Homo sapiens: one gene and its partners. The protein of the gene in region 2 interacts with the protein of the main gene of each other region in a pairwise test. Each region holds a gene or a part of one and is shown on either strand. Other genes may lie near its edges.

What was found. The genes of interacting proteins can lie anywhere in the genome.
Region 1: the proteins of PLEKHG7 (region 2) and CCT5 interact in binary tests that used the Homo sapiens proteins (3 or more experiments, as listed by UniProt).
Region 3: the proteins of PLEKHG7 (region 2) and ATXN1 interact in binary tests that used the Homo sapiens proteins (3 or more experiments, as listed by UniProt).

The regions. Positions count from the first base shown.
Region 1 is NC_000005.10:10,260,261-10,266,899, reverse strand, and holds the end of CCT5 (T-complex protein 1 subunit epsilon), read right to left. Parts: intron 6,109-6,639; coding exon 5,989-6,108; intron 5,341-5,988; coding exon 5,155-5,340; intron 4,420-5,154; coding exon 4,282-4,419; intron 3,767-4,281; coding exon 3,586-3,766; intron 2,245-3,585; coding exon 2,117-2,244; 3' UTR 511-2,116; downstream 1-510. UniProt on the Homo sapiens protein: Component of the chaperonin-containing T-complex (TRiC), a molecular chaperone complex that assists the folding of actin, tubulin and other proteins upon ATP hydrolysis.
Region 2 is NC_000012.12:92,754,979-92,762,007, forward strand, and holds part of PLEKHG7 (pleckstrin homology domain-containing family G member 7), read left to right. Parts: intron 1-846; coding exon 847-962; intron 963-1,319; coding exon 1,320-1,413; intron 1,414-6,773; coding exon 6,774-6,853; intron 6,854-7,029.
Region 3 is NC_000006.12:16,303,451-16,310,479, reverse strand, and holds part of ATXN1 (ataxin-1), read left to right. Parts: intron 1-3,620; coding exon 3,621-4,151; 3' UTR 4,152-7,029. UniProt on the Homo sapiens protein: Chromatin-binding factor that repress Notch signaling in the absence of Notch intracellular domain by acting as a CBF1 corepressor. Binds to the HEY promoter and might assist, along with NCOR2, RBPJ-mediated repression. Binds RNA in vitro.

The DNA.
Region 1 (6,639 bases), on a different chromosome or scaffold from region 2:
GCTTGCAGAGTTGACCCTCATCTGAATTCAACCAACCTCAGGTTGAGAACATTCAGAGAAAAAAATTGCATCTGTACTGAACATGTAGATTTTTTCTTGTCATTACTCCCTAAATACAGTATGACACTTACATATCATTTATATTAGATATTATGAATAATAGAGATGATTTAAAGTATACAGGAGGATGTATGTTATATGCAAATACCACGATTTTTATCAGGGACTTGAGCGTCCATGAAATCTGGCACCTACAGGACATCCTGGAACTGCCCCCACATAGAAATTGAGTAGGCTGAAATTAAAAACAGGACATTTAACAAACCTCCAATGAATCTAGCAGGTGTAGAAATCGGGAACCAGCAGTAATACATGGGGACTTACATGGGAATCTAGCCTTTGGGTCAAGCACCCTAAGTTGCTTTTGCTCCACATGGGGAAGGAGAGGGTGTGGCCAAAGTACCAGCAAAATAAAACTTGAGTGATCTGGAACGTGAAAAATAAAAGACATCACGTGGAAGAGGTTTATTACAAATAAATGAAACAAAAATCAAAGGCTTGTGAAACATCTCTAAGTCTTCCTGTTCATTGACCAGTTTCTCAATCACAAAAAACAGGAACGTCTGTGAGGTTCAATTTTGGAAAGGGGGATTGGTTTAGTGGCTCTTCTGATACAACCACAGACCCCTCGGATAAGACTGTGGTCCAAAGAAGGCTGCTGTATGTTCTCTGTAGGCTAGACTCAGTCCTTGTAAATAAACTCAGTTTAAAGCTTTCAATACTCAACTGCATAGTTCCATATAAACATGAAAATTAGGAAGATTGCTATTAGCACACATTCCTAAATCCACAGGAGTTATTTAGCAAAACATCCAATGCATGAATGTAGAGAAAACACAATGACCCAAAAGTTAAGACTGGTGAATCTCCAGGTTCACATGAGACGGTAACCCAAATTCATCACTTAACCAAATTTAGACAAGAGTCACCATTTCCTAATTCTAGGAAATCTGACTAGTTAAGGTGGCATAACTAGTGATAAAGTTCATCATGAGCTTTATCATCACAATGCTAAGAAACATTATTTTAGAAAATCTAGAGAATCATTAACAAGCAAATAACAGAGTAGGGGATGAGCTGGGCCACTCTGGGGTCAGACTGCCTGGGATTGACCTGGCCCTACTACTTGCTGGTGGTGAGATGCTGGCCAATTATGAGTACTCACCTGTAAGATGTGAGCAGTAAGAAAGTGTATCTGCCTCACTGGGTTGTCAGAACAGACAATCCCGGTAGAGTTCTCGGAGCGTCTTGGCCCATCACTGTTAGCTAGTTAATACTTTAGTAAGTACAATTAATTTCAGTCACTCTATCTGAACATGGTAACTGCAAGATTTCTCCCTTATTTCCTGTAATTTACTTTAACCTCCACTTCACTGTGTCCCTCTGATAGGGAAACAAGTGGGTTCTGAACTGCCCTAAGCCTGTGCTGGTGGCCAGCTCTGCACATGCTGGTCCTGATTCTGTGTATGAGCTGTGTTCAGGGTGGGGCCGGGGCCAGAGGAAAGCAAAGGCTCACATGGGTCTCCATCAGCCCTAAACAACACGCCAGGTTAGGCTGTGAGCAACCTAGTAACAGCACTTAAGGCATCCCATAATTCTGTGGTGGACCCTCTACAATCAAATGGCCCACCCATTTAGATAGGAAGAGGATCAAGCCCATATTCCTCTCAATATGAAAGTGCATCTTGAGAGCTCCTGTTTAAGCTGTTAAAATAGTCCCTACAGCTTATTTTGAGAAAAAAAAATCCACCCAAACCCCTTCAATTAAGGCAGCATTTAATTACTGTTACAATAAACGTTTCTTAAACCCGAAGAGAAGATAAAGGTTGTTTAAACAGATTCTTTTAATACAATGAATACAAAAGCAGTTGAGATGGTACCCCCACGATTACACAGCTTTGAACAAGTGAAACTATGGTTACCAAACAGCTATTTTTATTATAGCATCTACAGTGTCTGGAAAAGGATGTAACAATAAATAACTGTAGATGCATCACGAGACATCCATTTACTTAATCACAGAAGTGGATCTTGCTACATAGTTTTCTCAATGTCTTCATTCTTCAGATTCTCCAGGCTTACGAATGTCATCAATCTTCAAAATCATTCTAACCATTTGTGTTGCAAGAGATATCTGTTGCTTTTTGCCAATCAAGGTTTCTATGACATGCTGTTGCTTCATATCTGAAAAATACAAGGACACTGATTATCCTAAAATAGCATACAATAAACTATCAATAACCAACTCTTTCTGATTTAGGGAATCACAGTAAGACTTAAGAAATACAAACTCCTGGAAGCCAAGCAGGAAGCCACTAATTTCAGTTATATTTCATTTTCAGATGAATGTAATTTCATTACTTCCAAGGACACTCTGGAACTCGCACCTGGTAAAGAGAGCTGTTGGGAGGGCACTGTCTTCAATGACTAGCTACAGGGTGACATTTTTCAGGAACATCTTATCCCACAAAGTATCCATACCCTAACTTAGGAAATCTAAAGTAAGTCCATCTGACCACAGCTGAAATGTAAGATATTTCCAAGAAAGATCTAGAAATGCTAATTTTTTTTTTGGAGACAGGTGTCACCCAGGCTGGAATACAACAGTGCGATCTCAGCTCACTGGAACCTCTGCGTCCCGGGTTCAAGCGATTCTCCTGCCTCAGCCTCCCGAGTAGCTGGGATTACAGGTGCCTGCCCTGACCAGGCCTGGCTAATTTTGTATTTTTTGTAGAGATGGTGTTTCACCATGTTGGTCAGGCTGGTGTCAAACTCCTGACCTCAGGTGATCCACCCGGCTTGGCCTCCTAAAGTGCTGGGATTACAGACATGAGTCACTGCGCCCGGCCCTAGAAATGCTAAATTTGAGCACAACCAGGCATTCAAGTTAGAAACATTAAATGTTTGCCTCACAAAGAGTTGCTACTATTGAAACCCTTGGAATTTGAGCATGGAAAGCAGAATGTACCTATACCTTTAAGCAAAAGCTGTCATTCTGTGGATGGATTACAGACATGGCCTGATTTAGTACAGAAATGCCTGAGACCACTGTTTCAACAAGCTACAGCCACCATATCTTTTTGGGAGCCGAGCTACACAAGTGGCTACAGAGGTTATATATTACATTTAGAAAACACTCCACAGTGTGCAGGATTAACCACACAGTGAACTGTGAACTAAAGCCCACTTCAGAGCTGTTATATATATGCTGCCCACTGACAGACATCTGTGTAAAAACAGCAATAAGGCATTACTTCCCAAAAACCAGAGATTAAAACCTAAGTCATCTTTGGTGATAGTACCATATGCACTTTACTGTTATTACAATGAGTCTCATGTTGCTAGGTCTAGTAGTCTAACCAATTCCTACGGCAATCAAACATTCTAAAATTCAGGACTTGAACACCTGAAGTGGGCTTACATATTTAAAAAGACACCATCATCTCACAGCACATACAGTGGATGATTATTCAGTTTAAATCAGACATCCCCCCCCCTCCACGCAGAGGCGTGACAGCTCCTCACCATTTGTCCCCTTGTGCAAACAGTCGATGCCAAGAGCAGGGTTCATCTCCTTCACCTGTCTGGCTCGGACTTCGGTCATAGTCTGGATGGGATTCATGCCACTGTTTTCAGAGAGGGCCATGGGGATGACCTCCAGTGCGTCGGCAAACGCTCTCATGGCATACTGTTCTAAGGTGGGGCACTGGAAAGGTACAGAAGTATGGTGAGTGCACTTGGCGAAACAAAACAACCCAGCGGCACCGTGAAAACACAACTGTATCACATACTTTGAAAAGTCAGCTCACAAAGAATTGTAAGAACAGGCTGTCTTTATTTTTGTATCTATCAGAATATTATAATGTCACCACAGAATACAGGCAGAGGGTATACATACATGTGAGAGATGTCTCAAAATACAGCAGCTCTTATGGCTTTATTTTTAAGTTATAATATTAATTTTGAATTTCAAATAACATTAAAAGACTATAGATTTATTATTTCAAGGACGAACTGGCTGAAAACAGCTGAGAAATGCTAGGTTATGGTAACCAGAATCTGAATACAGGAACGTGGGAATTAACTTAGATTAAAACACCTGTCACCTACACACAGCTCACGATGCTTGTTTTGCATCCAGCACCTCGCTGTTCCGCAGCTTCACAGTCTCCACCATCAGCGAGGCCTGAATCTTTCACTAAGTCTGCACAGATCCCTTACCTTATCCGCCTCTTGGCTAACTGCCAGGGCACAGGATATCTCAGCAGCCCCTCCTCCATACACCACACGATTATCGCGGATGAGGTTCCGGATGACACACAAAGCATCGTGAAGGGATCGTTTCGCCTCCTCAATGATCTAAGGAAAACAGCTTTGCCTGAATTAATGTGATCAAGATCTAGTCAATTTAGAGCCAAGTATCTGGCACCTTTTTAAAGACAGAGAGGCTGTGCTCTAATATTTAGATGGCCTCCACTATCGGATAATATTTATCTTTCTAGCTTTCCTTCCTGCAATGTAGTTAACAAAATTCAAGAGGCAGAGGCGGCCAGTGACTCATTCTAGGATACACGGTCAAGCAAGAGTCAAAAACTGACAAAACTCGCAAAGATTTATCACAATGTGCTAAAAACTCATTCTCAAAGAACAGAGATCGTCAATGGTTATTCACTTGGGTTCCCTTTTTCTACCTAAGGGACAGATGTAAGTCATCCTTGGTAATAATACCATATTGTAATTAAAATGAGTCTTATGTTGCTAGGGCTAGCAGTTTAACCAACCCCTAATGTAACTGTATCAAACATTCTAAAATCCAGGACTTGAATATTTAAACTGTGTTTAAGTATTTAAAAAGATATAAAAATCTCATAGTGTATATTGTATACTCTAAGGGACAGCAGAAAGGCAAATGTGCCTTGTGAAATTAACAATTTAACATGGTCTTCAGTAATTTTACACCATGATACGTCATTGTTTGAGAACCACGATTATTTTTCTTATGGTGACTGTGTCTCTGTTAAATACACACAGGCAAAAAAGCCAGACCATGAAGCAAAATAAGCAACAGTATAGGACAAATAGTTGAATTCTCACCATCTTATTTCCTCCTCTAATAAAAATGGTTACAGCTCTGGAGTTCTTACACTGCTCGATGACCAGCATTTTATCCTTAGTTGTCCCAAATGAGATCTCCTGTACAAGACCAGCAAAGCCCAGCTTCTCGGCTGTGAGCTCTGAGAACCTGGGGACGATCCGCCCTCCTGTTGCGATGGCAATCAGCTAATTGGGGTGGTCAGGGAGAAGGATGAAGACAGTACTGGTGAAGTTAACTTTCAAAACTGGGCCACAAATGAGCAAAACTTGATCTAAGACCAACTTGTTCACTAGAACTGCTGCCCCACTTTGACCGAGACATCTCCAGTTCAACCCAAAGCACCTTGCTAGGTAACAAGGCTCTTGAGCTGGACGTCTTGATTGGGGCTTTGGTGCTGCCCAGATCTATCACCCGGCGCCCGTCCCCTAAGCTCATACCCTCATCTCCCATCTGTGCAGCCCTCCCTCACTCTGGGAACCCAGCCTGCATGTTCCTTGCACTGCGCTGCAGTGAGAACCACCGAGGCACCGTTGCCTGGGACTGCCATTAGTATTTGGATGAGACCAGGTCTTCCAGCCTTAGTAAGTCAACGACAGGGCCAAGTGAGACAACACAGGGAGAGAATTTCAAAATGCCAGGGAACACCAGAAACACACAGCACTGTTATCCAAACAGTAACAAAGATTCCAGCGCTTTCCTCTCTCCCAGCTCACCCTCCCCTCATCTGCCAGCCTTGGTGTGATGCAGTTATTTAAGGCAGGGCTATCAAAACACCCCTCAACACATAAGATGAACCCCTACTTCTCAAAGTCTCTTCACGTGGAACATCCTACCTCAATTTCAGGTCCTCCTACCCAGCGAACCGCAGGCAAGTTGTTCTGAAGAAGTAAGTGATTTGCTTCATCATCAAAGCCCCACTGACAAATTGCTAGGTTAGCACCAGTCTCTTTAATCTGGGAAAAGAACCACCACAATCGTATTAAGAGAAAGTGGGTATTTATTCTTCATTACAATGTTTGAAAAAAGGAGAGGCACAGTTGGGTGTAAGGCAGGTGCACTCAAACACAAAAGCAAAGGAAAGAGAAGGAAGGAAATAGACAAGTGTCCACTTTTCTGTCAGTTCCAAATTCTAAATAGTGAATATTTTATCAATGGGGATCACCTCATTGTTTATGCTTTAAAAACCACAAGCAGTAATTCTGCTGAACCCTATTGTTACAGTGAGGCAAAACCCACAGAAACGTCAACAAAGCTAACACCCTTCCCCAACCATGGGGAAATGGCTAACAGCTCTGTCCTGTCACAAACACCTACAGAGTAGTTTCACCTGAGTATGTTTTAAACAAACAATGTTATGAACCACTTGCAACTTGACTGTCTCACCTGAGTGGACAATCCTCAGTGGATCCATAAACTAATTCGGGCACTCACAGAGGCAACCCTGCTTCCAGTAAGAAGCACCCTCACCCCGACCTGCAAATGGC
Region 2 (7,029 bases):
TTTTTCTTCTGTTTTTAAATTTTTTATTCAAATTCTAAAATTATCTGAAGAGCTGGAATTAAGTTTATCAAGCAAGTAAGACAAAGAATCTCTTAAAGATGACTTCTTTAGCTTTAGAAGTAATCTTAAGGATTATTACTCATTTGGATGGGTTTGTGAGGAAAGATAAAGCAGCACCTCTGGAGATTTCTCAGTGAAAGATGGATTCTCATTGTTGAGGGAAGAGATTTGTGTGGCCTCCCTTTATGTCTATTACCTTAAAGATGGTGAATTCTGAAGGTTCCACTAACAATGTGATTCTTCAGGTCTCTTACTTGCCCTCCATGTTTTCAAAAAACATTTCAAACCCTCAATAGCAACATGTTATTAGAAAACATTGGAAAATGAATATAAACCTTCCAAAGAGAAATTGAGTTCCTACCAAAAAAGAAATAATCACCATGATCATGAAGTGAATATATACTTTTATGATTGGGACAAAAACATATGTTTGTCCTTGTTAGTCTGATTTTTTTTTTCCTCCTCTAATTATAGGCTGTGTGGTCTAGGGAATAAGAGAAAACTACCAAGGATTTTATTGGTATTATTGAAATAAGAATACACAATATACTTTCAAACTACTGAATTAAATTAGCTAAGCTTGATTTTTCTCTGCAAGAGACTGATTCCAAATTAGTGAGTTTTCTAAGACGCATGAACAGCAAGCAATATGTGAAATGAACTTTATATATTGTCTGGCTCCAGGGGCAGCCAGTGTTTCTAAATGATTCCTGTGGACCTTGGTTAAAATTTATACTGCAATGTCATATGCACCTAAAAATATACTGACTATGTCATGTCTTTCAGGGGACCTTGAAGGAAAAGTGAAGTGGCTGGACAATTTCCAAAAATTTAGATATCTACAGGAGATTATAGTGTGGCCACCGCTTTGGGATAGAGATAAAAGGTTTTTCATTCCAGAGGTACAAAAAAAAAATCAATTAGGACTTATGTCCATTTCTGGAATTTGGGCATTCAGATAGAAATACAATCATCTTAGATGTCCCCATCTGTCCACTTGAAGAATAAATCTAGTTTCATGAACAAGAAGTAAAGTCTTCATCTGTAGGGCATTGTATGCGGGGAGGCTGAGGTCGCTGTGCCATTCTTATGATGGTCCTTCTGAGAGGGTTTTTCATTGTTTCCCATTCCCATGTCCATCTGCTGGCATTTCCAAATGTCATGAACTTTCTAGATGGAGTTAATTGCCCCAGCTTTTTAAACATGTTCTCTTCCAATCACTAACAACATCTCTTTTATTTTCTCGCTTGTTTTACAAGTGTTTGAAACACATTTTTAAAGAACACATGGCAGAAAACATCTTGTCACCAACCAGCAGACACCTTCTCTATGAAGGAAAATTAACTCTTGCAGGTAAATAACTGCTTCCTTTAAAAAACCCAACATCTGTGCCGCCTTGTAACTTGTTTGACTGCCAGTAATTGAAGAGCAGGAGGACTTGTGTTTGCCTATGTTCCAGGTGATGGAGGGTGTGAATGAGAGAGTCCCTATGGAGTCACACAGACTCAGGCTTGAATGAAGACTTCGCAACATAACTAGCTAGGTGCTCTCTGTTTTCTCTCTGTAATGGGATAACTCTAACTATTCCATAGGATTGTTAAAACAACATACAAGAACAACTTCGCTCACGGTCTGGAATCTAGTAAATAGTCAATGGCAGCTGTTATCATCATAATCGTTGTACTCCCCCAATGAGCCAGACAATCAAGCTCTCAAATGTTTATGGAGACTCTATTATATTATATAGGACAAGTTGTGCTAGGTAGGTACTATTGGAAGATATAAAAACTCATTCTGTATAATTCTTTCCCTCTAGTTGGGAAGCTCTGCCTTATTACCAGACCTTCAGGATAAGTTCAGAAAAGAAGAGAGTCCTTGAGGCTGCAGTGCCCTGGAGAGGCTTCGTGCAGTCCATGGGACTGGAGGTGGGCTTGGAGGGGCAGGAAGGATGAGGTCAGTGGAAGGACAGGAGGGAGGTCATTCAGATAAATAGCACAGCTGGAGAAGTCTTGGAGGCAGAAGCCCCTGGAGAAACTTAGTTTCTAGCAGAGTACATAGGAAGCCAAGCCCCTGGGGCTGACTGCCTGGCTCACTCCCTGCTCAGCCTTTTCTGCCTGTACAACCTTGGGCCATTTACAGTGATCTCCTGTGCTTCAGTTTACCTTACTTTATTGTGAGGATTAAATGAACCAACGGATGTGTAAGCACTCAAAAGAATGATTGACACAAATTTCATGCCCAATAAATATCATGATGATCAGAAAGGCTGCCTGGCTGAAATAAGGTTTTAAATCATTTATTTATTCATTTCTGCACAAAATCTTGACCAGGCACTTACTGAGTGTGAAGTCCTGTGGGATGGGATGTTGCCTAACAGTGGTGATGTGATATCTGGTGGGGAGGGGCTGGGAAATAATCCCTTAATACATGTATATTGAAACTCTGCTCTATTTTAGAGGTAGTCTGGATGTCAGGTTAGGACATAATCCCCACCTGGCAGCTGTTAAATAAGGAAGATAGACATATCCAGCGTTTTATATCCAAGGGCTTTTTCATACATTGTCTCTTTCCAGTAAGTTAAATAGAGAAGTTGCTTTTAATCCCTTGTTATAGGTGAGAGATTTGGGGCTCAGGGAGGTTCTGTATCATGCCCAAGTTCACCTGGTGGGTAAATGACCGAGTACCAGCTGGAGCCTGGCTGCCTTGGTCCAGCTGGCTTCCAGAATCAGAGCAACTGCCTTGGAAACCAAACAGAAGGACCCAGCCAGGAAACTGCAGGCAACCAGAAGTCATTGAGCTCTCAGACAGGGAAGTGATAGGTTAAAAGGGTGTTGAAGAAAGCGTTGTTAATAAGCAGTGTTCAAAATGGCATAGAGGAGACCAAAGCAGAGTGGTGAAACCGGAAGTTCAGTGGTGAACACGGTGAGGTGAGAAGACTCGGGGCCTGTCTGTTGCTCTACCATTTTTAACATGTGGTCAACCCACCCCCCACTTTCATTTGAAAACATAACAATTTTAACTTTTCTTTAATGTTATTTACAACTTCAAAGTAATTATATTTTATGACAAGAACAAATCAAAGTAATAAAGCAAAACATTATCTGTGTTCCAGCATGTATCTTTACCTCCAAAATTAGCCCCACCTGAAATTATGTGAGGCTTTGGTTCACTCCTTCCCTCTTCCTACCTACCTCCCAATACTGCAAGATGCACCAGCTTCTCCTAACACATTAGAAATGGGCATGATAGAAAAGGATATGGGAGACATTGCAAAGGCAAAACCAGGAGGATTTTATGATCGACAAAGTGGATGAAGAGGAAATGAGTATCAAAAACTGTTCTAATCTATGTATCTGAAAGTTTTGTTGATAATGCCATGAGTGGTAGAGGGAGTGGGTCAAGGAGTCAATTTTAGGGTTCAGGTTTGGGCATAATGAGAACCCACATGGAAGCTGGAGGAGCAGCTCCTGGTGGGTGAAAGTCTAAGTCAGATGTGAATTCATGCATCGCATGGGTTCAAAGTGACTGTCATAGATGTATGGGTTGGAAGCTCACCTAAGAAAGACTCTTTACAAACAGACTCAACTTTTCCAGAAAATGCTTCTTGTACAGTCAAATGTGGTAGTATGGACATGAACTACATAATGTCACTAACACCAGGCACTTGTTTAATGGCATATGCTGTATTAGTCAAATTCCATCAGAGATGGAGACTCCATATGATGTAGTCTACATGGCATCAAGCCAAGTGCAAAGTCCTGAGACTGGACTCAGAGTTGAGCATCGAGATTTGATGGGGCAGGGTGATAGTGTTAGAAGAAACAGGACATTTCACTTCTTGGTCTTTTGGCTAAGATCAAGTGAGGAAACAGGACATCATTTTAAATGAAAAAAGCATTGAACCAACAGTCAGGGGATCTAGCACCAATTGTAGGCTTTGGGAAAATTTAAATTCTCTTATTCTCTTTTATAAATGTTATTGCTGCTGCTGATAATGATGATGACAATGAGGATGAAAATGATGTGATGAAACCTAACACATACTGTGTTTCCAAATTTCTCCCAGCCTTAAAAACTGTACTCTTATAATCAAATAAGTATATGTTCTCATTCCCAGAAGGTACACATTTTCATAATTTGTTTCATAACTTACTTGGTGGAAAACTAGGGCCTCAATAAATGGTAGATAAAATAATTACCACTTTCTAGAATAATGTCTGTAACATTATCTAGAATAACATCTGGAATACGTAGAAGGTGTGCTCCCTGCCTGTTTGTCAAAATAAAATAGTTGAAATTAGAAGGAGAAAACAAAACTATTTCATTTTGACAATGATCATTGAGCTGACGCATACATGAGTAGCAGAAGATGGGAATAGCAAATTTTACAGGTTTGAAGGTTGCTGTGGACTGAATTGTGTTCTTCCATTGCTGTGGACTGAATTGTGTTCTTCCACAAATCACATGTTGAAGCCTTAATGTCCAGTATGACTATACTTGGAATAAGGAAGAAATGCAGGTAAAATGAGGGACTCAGGCTGGAGCCTTGATCTGATAGGATTAGTATCCTAATCAGAGCAGACATCAGAGAGCTCACTCTCTCTGTTTGCCATGTAAGAACACATGCAGAAACCCAAAAAGAAAGCCCTTATCAGGAACTGAATCGACCAGCACCTTGATCTACTTCCCAGGCTCCAGAACTGTGAGAAATAAATTCCTATTGCTTAAGCCACCCTGTCTGTGGTATTTTGCTATGGCAGGCTCAGCTGGCTGTTCACAGGTCTAGTGCTGTACCATTCCTAGCCCTGTATATCAGTTGGCATATAGATTCAGCCACTGGAGACGGACAGGTTAAAAAAGATAGTTTATTTCTCTCTTGTTAAGTCTCAACCTATATGACAACTCCACTCCATGAAGTCATTAGGAATCCAGATTCCTGCTGTCTTATTCCCAAATCTAGGGAACTGCCTTCTTCTGTGTGGCCCAAGATGACTCACCAATATGTCTGTATTCTACCCAGTGAGAAGGAGAGACAGAGACAAGAGAGCTTAGCCCTGCCCTTCACGAATATGACTCAGAAGTTGCATGCTTTGGCTCACATTCCATTGGTCAGAATTTAGCTCCTTGGTCATATTCAGCAGCAAGGAAATGTAGTCTCTGTTCTCTGAGGATGGGTACTCACTAAAACTTGGGGATTCTACTGCTACAAGAGAAGGGGAGAATGGTTTTCAAGGGACAACCAGAAGTCTTTGCCACAACTTGATTTATGAAAAGTTAAGTTTTTAATATGATTTTTAAAAAAACTATTCAAGGACTATTTAATTTGAATAAAATACCAGATTTCTCCCCTATGCAAATATAGAAAAAATCTTTTCTCTAAACTTAAAGAATGAGAGGAGATAGAAATGAATCCTAAATGTTTTAGCTACTACTTTAAATCTTCTAGGGGTAAAAACATATAAGAAAGAACTTCTAGAACAATATATATATATAATCTAAATAGAACAAGCTGAAAAAAATTTACTGGGTTTTCCTATGATTACTCTAAGCACTTGTCACATCTCCCTCTAAAAACCTTTTCCTCTGAAATCACTTAAATTTAACCCTTTTTTCTAATTTCTAAGGGATAGAGTAAAATAAGGAAGGAGATGCCTTATTCTGATACTTGGTTTCTCTTCTACTACTATTCCCTTCTTAGGGAAAACTAAAGAAAAGCTATTTGCCTTAAGTAACTATTAAAACTAATATCAGAAAAGTTTGTAAATATGAAACAGATGGAGAATATCTAAACATTTATAGACACTTTCTAAAACTTGAGAAATAAGTAGTTTTAATGACTGTCAACCTAGGCCGCCATAACAAAATATCACAGACAGGCTGACTTAAACAGCAGAAATTTATGTCTTACAATCTGGAGGCTGAAAAGTCCCAGGCCAAGGTGATGGCAAATTCAGTTCCTGATGAGCGCTCTCTTCAAGACAAGGAGTGGGGGATAGGGTGGAGGTATCCGGTGTCTCAAAGAACACTAATGCTACTGGATCAGTGCACCAGCCTTATCACTTCATTTTACCCTAATTACTTTCTTACTCCAAATGCAGCCACCCTAGTGGTTTAGGGCTTCAACATATGAAATTTGAGTGACACAATAGCATAATTCATAGCAGTGAGAAAATGCCTTTTCTCTGGTTATGTGTGCCTTTGCCAATAACCACCCAGAGGAATCTAGAGGCAAAAATGCTGCAAGTTCAATCAGTTGATAGATTTACCCTCGGCTGAGTTGAAGCCACTACAAATAACATCTGAGTTATCTTAGATTCAAATGAGACGCATCATAAATTCAATGTCTTTAATGTTGGAAGCTTGGCCTCTCATCAAGTCTCTGCTTTAGGAAGAAATCAATTCAACATTGAGGCAGGCAGCTTTCTGACCTACATGATTGGAGCCCCTGGGGTGCCGTAATACTCACCCAGTTTTGTTTTCTAAGGAATTCATTGATTAAAAAAAAGAGAGAAAGAAAGAAAGAAGGAAGGAAGGAAGGAAGGAAAGAGAGAATGAAAAGAAAGAAAGAAAAAGAAAGAAAGAAAGAAGAAAGAAAGAAAGAAAGAAAGAAAGAAAGAAAGAAAGAAAGAAAGAAAGAAAGAAAGAAAGGGAAAGAAAAACTCTTCTACTTAACAGTTTCAGGTCCCCATTTCAGCTTCTCTTTTTTTCCTCAGAAAGCACGAGATTCCTAGATGTTTATCTGTTTCTCTTCAATGATTTCCTCTTAGTTACGAAAACTAAGTGCAACAAAAAGGTAAAATGCTGCTATTTCAAAGTACGTTTCTAAACAAGTTTGCTAAATGAGTTTAGAAATATTTCTAAATAAACTGTGGTAAAAATATAAAATATTCTTAAGCTGAATCTTTTCCTCTAAAAAATGAAGGCATTATAAACTATTGGCTTTTTTAGTCATAAAGCTCTGAAGTAAAT
Region 3 (7,029 bases), on a different chromosome or scaffold from region 2:
AACAATATTTTAAATATTGTTACATATAGCCAATATTCATTCAGATTCACCATGTATCTACCATTTTCATTCCTCTTCATTCCTCCCTGTACAAACTTCAATCTAGATTTGTTTTTTCTCTACCTAAAGAATACCTTTTAGTATTTTCTATAATGCAGATCTGTTGATGGTGAATTCTTTTAATTACTGTTTGTCTGAACATGTCTCTATTTTGCCTTCATTCTGGAAGGATCTTTTTGCTCCATATAGAATTCGCCATTGACAATTCTTTTTCTTTAGCACTGTAAAGATATTCCATTGTCTCCATTGTCTACTGGCTTCCATTATTTTTGTTGAGATGTAAACTGTGAGTTCCATTGTTGCTTATTTGGAGATAATATGTATTTTGTTCTAGAGGCTTTTTTTTTTTAATGGAGTTTCTCTATTGTCGCCCAGTCTAGAGTGTGATGGAATGATCTTGGCTCACTGCAACGATCTTGGCTCACTGCAACGATCTTGGCTCACTGCAACCTCCGCCTCCCGGGTTCAAGTGATTCTCCTGCCTCAGCCCCCCGAGTAGCTGGGATTACAGGTTCCTGCCACCATGCCCAGCTAATTTTTGCATTTTTAGTAGAGATGGGGTTTCACCATGTTGGCCAGACTGGTCTCAAACTCCTGACCTCAGGTAATCCACCCACCTCGGCCTCCCAAAGTGCTGGGATTACAGGCAGGAGCCACCACACCCAGCCTGTTCTAGAGGCTTTTAACGATATTTTTTCCTGTTTAGTTTACAAGATGTCTTTGATTTATAGCAGTTTAATTCTCATCTGCCTCAGTGAGGATTTCTTTTTGTTTATTTTTCCTGTTTGGGGCTAGGCCTTCTTGAAACTGTCTTATTATCCTTCTTCAGTTTGGGAAAATTCTTAGCCATTACCTCCTCAAGTATTAACTTCTGCCCTATTATCTCCCTCTCTTCCTCCTCCTAGGATTCAAATTATGTGTCTGTTAGCCCCTCTCAATGTATCCTATGTGTCTCTTACCCTCTCCTCCATATTGACCATCTTTTTGTCTCTATGTTCACTCTGTGGAGTCTCTTCTAAAGCTCTAATTAGAGAATCCAGTTCCTGAATTCTTTCTTAATCCATGTCTATTCAACTGGAAAGCTCATTGCATTCTTGATTTCAGTGGTGTATATTTTAATTCTACAATTCTCATAGACCTTTTTTAATTAATTAATTATTATTATTATTATTATTTATTTTTTTTTTTTTTAGAGACAGAGTCTCACTCTGTTGTCCAGGCTGGAGTGCAGTCTTGTGATCATAGCTCACTGCAACCTCTAACTCCTGGGCTCAAGATCCTCCTGCCTCAGCCTCCTGAGTAGTTGGGACTACAGGCACGCATCACCACACTAGGCTATTTTTTTTTAAATTTCTGTAGAAACGGGGTCTCATTTTGTTGCCCAGACTGGTCTGAAACTCCTGGCCTCAAGTGATCCTCCCTGTCTCAGCCTCCCAAAGTACTGAGATTACAGGCATGAGCCACCATGCCTGGCTTCATGGATCTTTTAAAAACAGATTCTAGTTTCCTATCAAAATTCTCAAGCTGTCTTTAATCTTCTTAATTATTGTAAGCATAGTCTTTGTAAAGTCTATATGTATGACTCTATATGAGAAGCCCTGGTGCATCCTTTTTTAAGATCTGATATTTTGCTAGTGCTTATACAAGCTATCTGGTCTCCTCATGACCACCACCCCCCTTTTTTAAATTGAATGCTTTTATTTGCAAAATTGTGAAAGTAATTCAAGACCTTAATCCAGTTTTAGGGACTCAGATGAGTCAATCTGAGCTTCAGACCTTGAAAGGCCTGTTGGCTTGTGGTTCACTGTCTCCTCTAAGGGACAGTGCTTTGGGGTCACAACTCAAAAGAATGGGGCTCACCAGAGAACACCCTCCCTTGGTGTATCCTGAACTCCATTACCTGTTCCCTATGCTCTTAACACTATCAAAAGCCCACTTGGTTTCCCAACTGCTCCACTTTGGAATGTTCAAGTGCCTTCAGGAGAAAACAGGCCCCCAACACCAGCTTCACCTCTCTGGGCCATCATCTTTTCCTGATCCAACCCAGGAAGTGTGTGTGTGTGTGTGTGTGTGTGTGTGTGTGTGTGTGTGTGTGTGACGGAGTTTCACTCTGTCGCCCAGGCTGGAGTGAAGTGGCATGATCTCGGTTCACTGCAGCCTCCGCCTCCCGGGTTCAAGCGATTCTCTTGCCTCAGCCTCCTGAGTAGCTGGGATTATAGGCGCCTGCCACCACACCTGGCTAATTTTTGTATTTTTAGTAGGGACAGGGTTTCACCATGCTGGCCAGGCTGGTCTCAGAGTAAAGTGGCACGATCTTGGCTCACTGCAACCTTCGTCCCCCGGACTCAAACGATTCTCCTGCCTCAGCCTCCTGAGTAGCTGGGATTATAGGGGCCCACCACCACACCTGGCTAAGTTTTGTATTTTTAGTAGAGATGGGGTTTTGCCATGGTAGCCAGGCTGGTCTCAAACTCCTGACCTCAGGTGATCCACGCGCCTTGGCCTCCCAAAGTGCTGGGATTACAGGCATGAGCCACCGCGCCTGGCCTTTTTACTATCTTATTTGCTGTCCAGTACTATAAGAAAAAAAGTTTAAACATTTTGTCCAGAGTTTTTAAATTTATTTGTTTGCTTATATTTTTGTTCAGAGTTTTTAGTTGTCCTCAGAAGGAGGGTTGGTCCAAATTACCTAGTCTACTACATCTAGAAAGGACATTGGAAATTGACTTTTTTTTTTTTTTTTTGAGACGGAGTCTCACTCTGTGGCCCAGGCTGGATCGCCCAGTGGCACGATCTCGGCTCGCTGCAACATCTGCCTCCTGGGTTCAAGTGATTCTAGTGTTTCAGCCTCCCAAGTAGCTGGGATTACAGGTGCCCGCCACCACGCATGGCTAATTTTTTTTTTTTATTTTTAGTGGAGACGGGGTTTCCCCATGTTGGCCAGGCTGGTCTTGAACTCCTGACCTCAAATGATCCACCCACCTTGGTGTCCCAAAGTGCTGGGATTACAGGCATGAGCCACTGTGCCCAGCCACCAAGCATCCTTTTAGGGGCTGGGGACTCAGTGATAAACACACTGTGCCTGCTTCTTGGAACTCACAGTCTCACTCTGATCCATGTTTAGTCCTGTCCTGTATGATAATAGCAGTTGTCCATTGAGCTCATAAAATCTAAGACCGCGCTGGGCTTGTGAGCCACCTGCAGAGCCTAGCTTGGTGCTGAAAGCTAAGTGGGTGCTCTGTCATTACTGGGGTTCGATTGACTGGTTCTAACAGAGACCAGCTATAGAGCTAACACTTGATGGAATATTTTGAATATTGATGACCTTTTCACTGGCTTCTGCCTATGGCAAGTAGAGGTACAACCCAAAGAGAAGAGCCTCATTTATAGTGTGTGGCTGGGGGAGAGGGAGGTTTGCAAACTGAGTCATTTTCCCCCATTCAGCCTGTGTGTGTCTGTGTGAGTTCATACCTGTGTGTGTGCATAAAATCAAACAAGAATAAAATGTTTTCATTTGTTCCCTTCCTTCTTCCTCTCTCTGTCTCTCCCTGTTTCCACAGGTCAGCGTTGAAGTTTTGGTAGAGTATCCTTTTTTTGTGTTTGGACAGGGCTGGTCATCCTGCTGTCCGGAGAGAACCAGCCAGCTCTTTGATTTGCCGTGTTCCAAACTCTCAGTTGGGGATGTCTGCATCTCGCTTACCCTCAAGAACCTGAAGAACGGCTCTGTTAAAAAGGGCCAGCCCGTGGATCCCGCCAGCGTCCTGCTGAAGCACTCAAAGGCCGACGGCCTGGCGGGCAGCAGACACAGGTATGCCGAGCAGGAAAACGGAATCAACCAGGGGAGTGCCCAGATGCTCTCTGAGAATGGCGAACTGAAGTTTCCAGAGAAAATGGGATTGCCTGCAGCGCCCTTCCTCACCAAAATAGAACCCAGCAAGCCCGCGGCAACGAGGAAGAGGAGGTGGTCGGCGCCAGAGAGCCGCAAACTGGAGAAGTCAGAAGACGAACCACCTTTGACTCTTCCTAAGCCTTCTCTAATTCCTCAGGAGGTTAAGATTTGCATTGAAGGCCGGTCTAATGTAGGCAAGTAGAGGCAGCGTGGGGGAAAGGAAACGTGGCTCTCCCTTATCATTTGTATCCAGATTACTGTACTGTAGGCTAAAATAACACAGTATTTACATGTTATCTTCTTAATTTTAGGTTTCTGTTCTAACCTTGTCATTAGAGTTACAGCAGGTGTGTCGCAGGAGACTGGTGCATATGCTTTTTCCACGAGTGTCTGTCAGTGAGCGGGCGGGAGGAAGGGCACAGCAGGAGCGGTCAGGGCTCCAGGCATCCCCGGGGAAGAAAGGAACGGGGCTTCACAGTGCCTGCCTTCTCTAGCGGCACAGAAGCAGCCGGGGGCGCTGACTCCCGCTAGTGTCAGGAGAAAAGTCCCGTGGGAAGGGTCCTGCAGGGGTGCAGGGTTGCACGCATGTGGGGGTGCACAGGCGCTGTGGCGGCGAGTGAGGGTCTCTTTTTCTCTGCCTCCCTCTGCCTCACTCTCTTGCTATCGGCATGGGCCGGGGGGGTTCAGAGCAGTGTCCTCCTGGGGTTCCCACGTGCAAAATCAACATCAGGAACCCAGCTTCAGGGCATCGCGGAGACGCGTCAGATGGCAGATTTGGAAAGTTAACCATTTAAAAGAACATTTTTCTCTCCAACATATTTTACAATAAAAGCAACTTTTAATTGTATAGATATATATTTCCCCCTATGGGGCCTGACTGCACTGATATATATTTTTTTTAAAGAGCAACTGCCACATGCGGGATTTCATTTCTGCTTTTTACTAGTGCAGCGATGTCACCAGGGTGTTGTGGTGGACAGGGAAGCCCCTGCTGTCATGGCCCCACATGGGGTAAGGGGGGTTGGGGGTGGGGGAGAGGGAGAGAGCGAACACCCACGCTGGTTTCTGTGCAGTGTTAGGAAAACCAATCAGGTTATTGCATTGACTTCACTCCCAAGAGGTAGATGCAAACTGCCCTTCAGTGAGAGCAACAGAAGCTCTTCACGTTGAGTTTGCGAAATCTTTTTGTCTTTGAACTCTAGTACTGTTTATAGTTCATGACTATGGACAACTCGGGTGCCACTTTTTTTTTTTTTCAGATTCCAGTGTGACATGAGGAATTAGATTTTGAAGATGAGCATATATTACTATCTTTAAGCATTTAAAAATACTGTTCACACTTTATTACCAAGCATCTTGGTCTCTCATTCAACAAGTACTGTATCTCACTTTAAACTCTTTGGGGAAAAAACAAAAACAAAAAAAACTAAGTTGCTTTCTTTTTTTCAACACTGTAACTACATTTCAGCTCTGCAGAATTGCTGAAGAGCAAGATATTGAAAGTTTCAATGTGGTTTAAAGGGATGAATGTGAATTATGAACTAGTATGTGACAATAAATGACCACCAAGTACTACCTGACGGGAGGCACTTTTCACTTTGATGTCTGAGAATCAGTTCAAGGCATATGCAGAGTTGGCAGAGAAACTGAGAGAAAAGGGATGGAGAAGAGAATACTCATTTTTGTCCAGTGTTTTTCTTTTTAAGATGAACTTTTAAAGAACCTTGCGATTTGCACATATTGAGTTTATAACTTGTGTGATATTCCTGCAGTTTTTATCCAATAACATTGTGGGAAAGGTTTGGGGGACTGAACGAGCATAAATAAATGTAGCAAAATTTCTTTCTAACCTGCCTAAACTCTAGGCCATTTTATAAGGTTATGTTCCTTTGAAAATTCATTTTGGTCTTTTTACCACATCTGTCACAAAAAGCCAGGTCTTAGCGGGCTCTTAGAAACTCTGAGAATTTTCTTCAGATTCATTGAGAGAGTTTTCCATAAAGACATTTATATATGTGAGCAAGATTTTTTTTAAACAATTACTTTATTATTGTTGTTATTAATGTTATTTTCAGAATGGCTTTTTTTTTTCTATTCAAAATCAAATCGAGATTTAATGTTTGGTACAAACCCAGAAAGGGTATTTCATAGTTTTTAAACCTTTCATTCCCAGAGATCCGAAATATCATTTGTGGGTTTTGAATGCATCTTTAAAGTGCTTTAAAAAAAAGTTTTATAAGTAGGGAGAAATTTTTAAATATTCTTACTTGGATGGCTGCAACTAAACTGAACAAATACCTGACTTTTCTTTTACCCCATTGAAAATAGTACTTTCTTCGTTTCACAAATTAAAAAAAAAATCTGGTATCAACCCACATTTTGGCTGTCTAGTATTCATTTACATTTAGGGTTCACCAGGACTAATGATTTTTATAAACCGTTTTCTGGGGTGTACCAAAAACATTTGAATAGGTTTAGAATAGCTAGAATAGTTCCTTGACTTTCCTCGAATTTCATTACCCTCTCAGCATGCTTGCAGAGAGCTGGGTGGGCTCATTCTTGCAGTCATACTGCTTATTTAGTGCTGTATTTTTTAAACGTTTCTGTTCAGAGAACTTGCTTAATCTTCCATATATTCTGCTCAGGGCACTTGCAATTATTAGGTTTTGTTTTTCTTTTTGTTTTTTAGCCTTTGATGGTAAGAGGAATACGGGCTGCCACATAGACTTTGTTCTCATTAATATCACTATTTACAACTCATGTGGACTCAGAAAAACACACACCACCTTTTGGCTTACTTCGAGTATTGAATTGACTGGATCCACTAAACCAACACTAAGATGGGAAAACACACATGGTTTGGAGCAATAGGAACATCATCATAATTTTTGTGGTTCTATTTCAGGTATAGGAATTATAAAATAATTGGTTCTTTCTAAACACTTGTCCCATTTCATTCTCTTGCTTTTTTAGCATGTGCAATACTTTCTGTGCCAATAGAGTCTGACCAGTGTGCTATATAGTTAAAGCTCATTCCCTTTTGGCTTTTTCCTTGTTTGGTTGATCTTCCCCATTCTGGC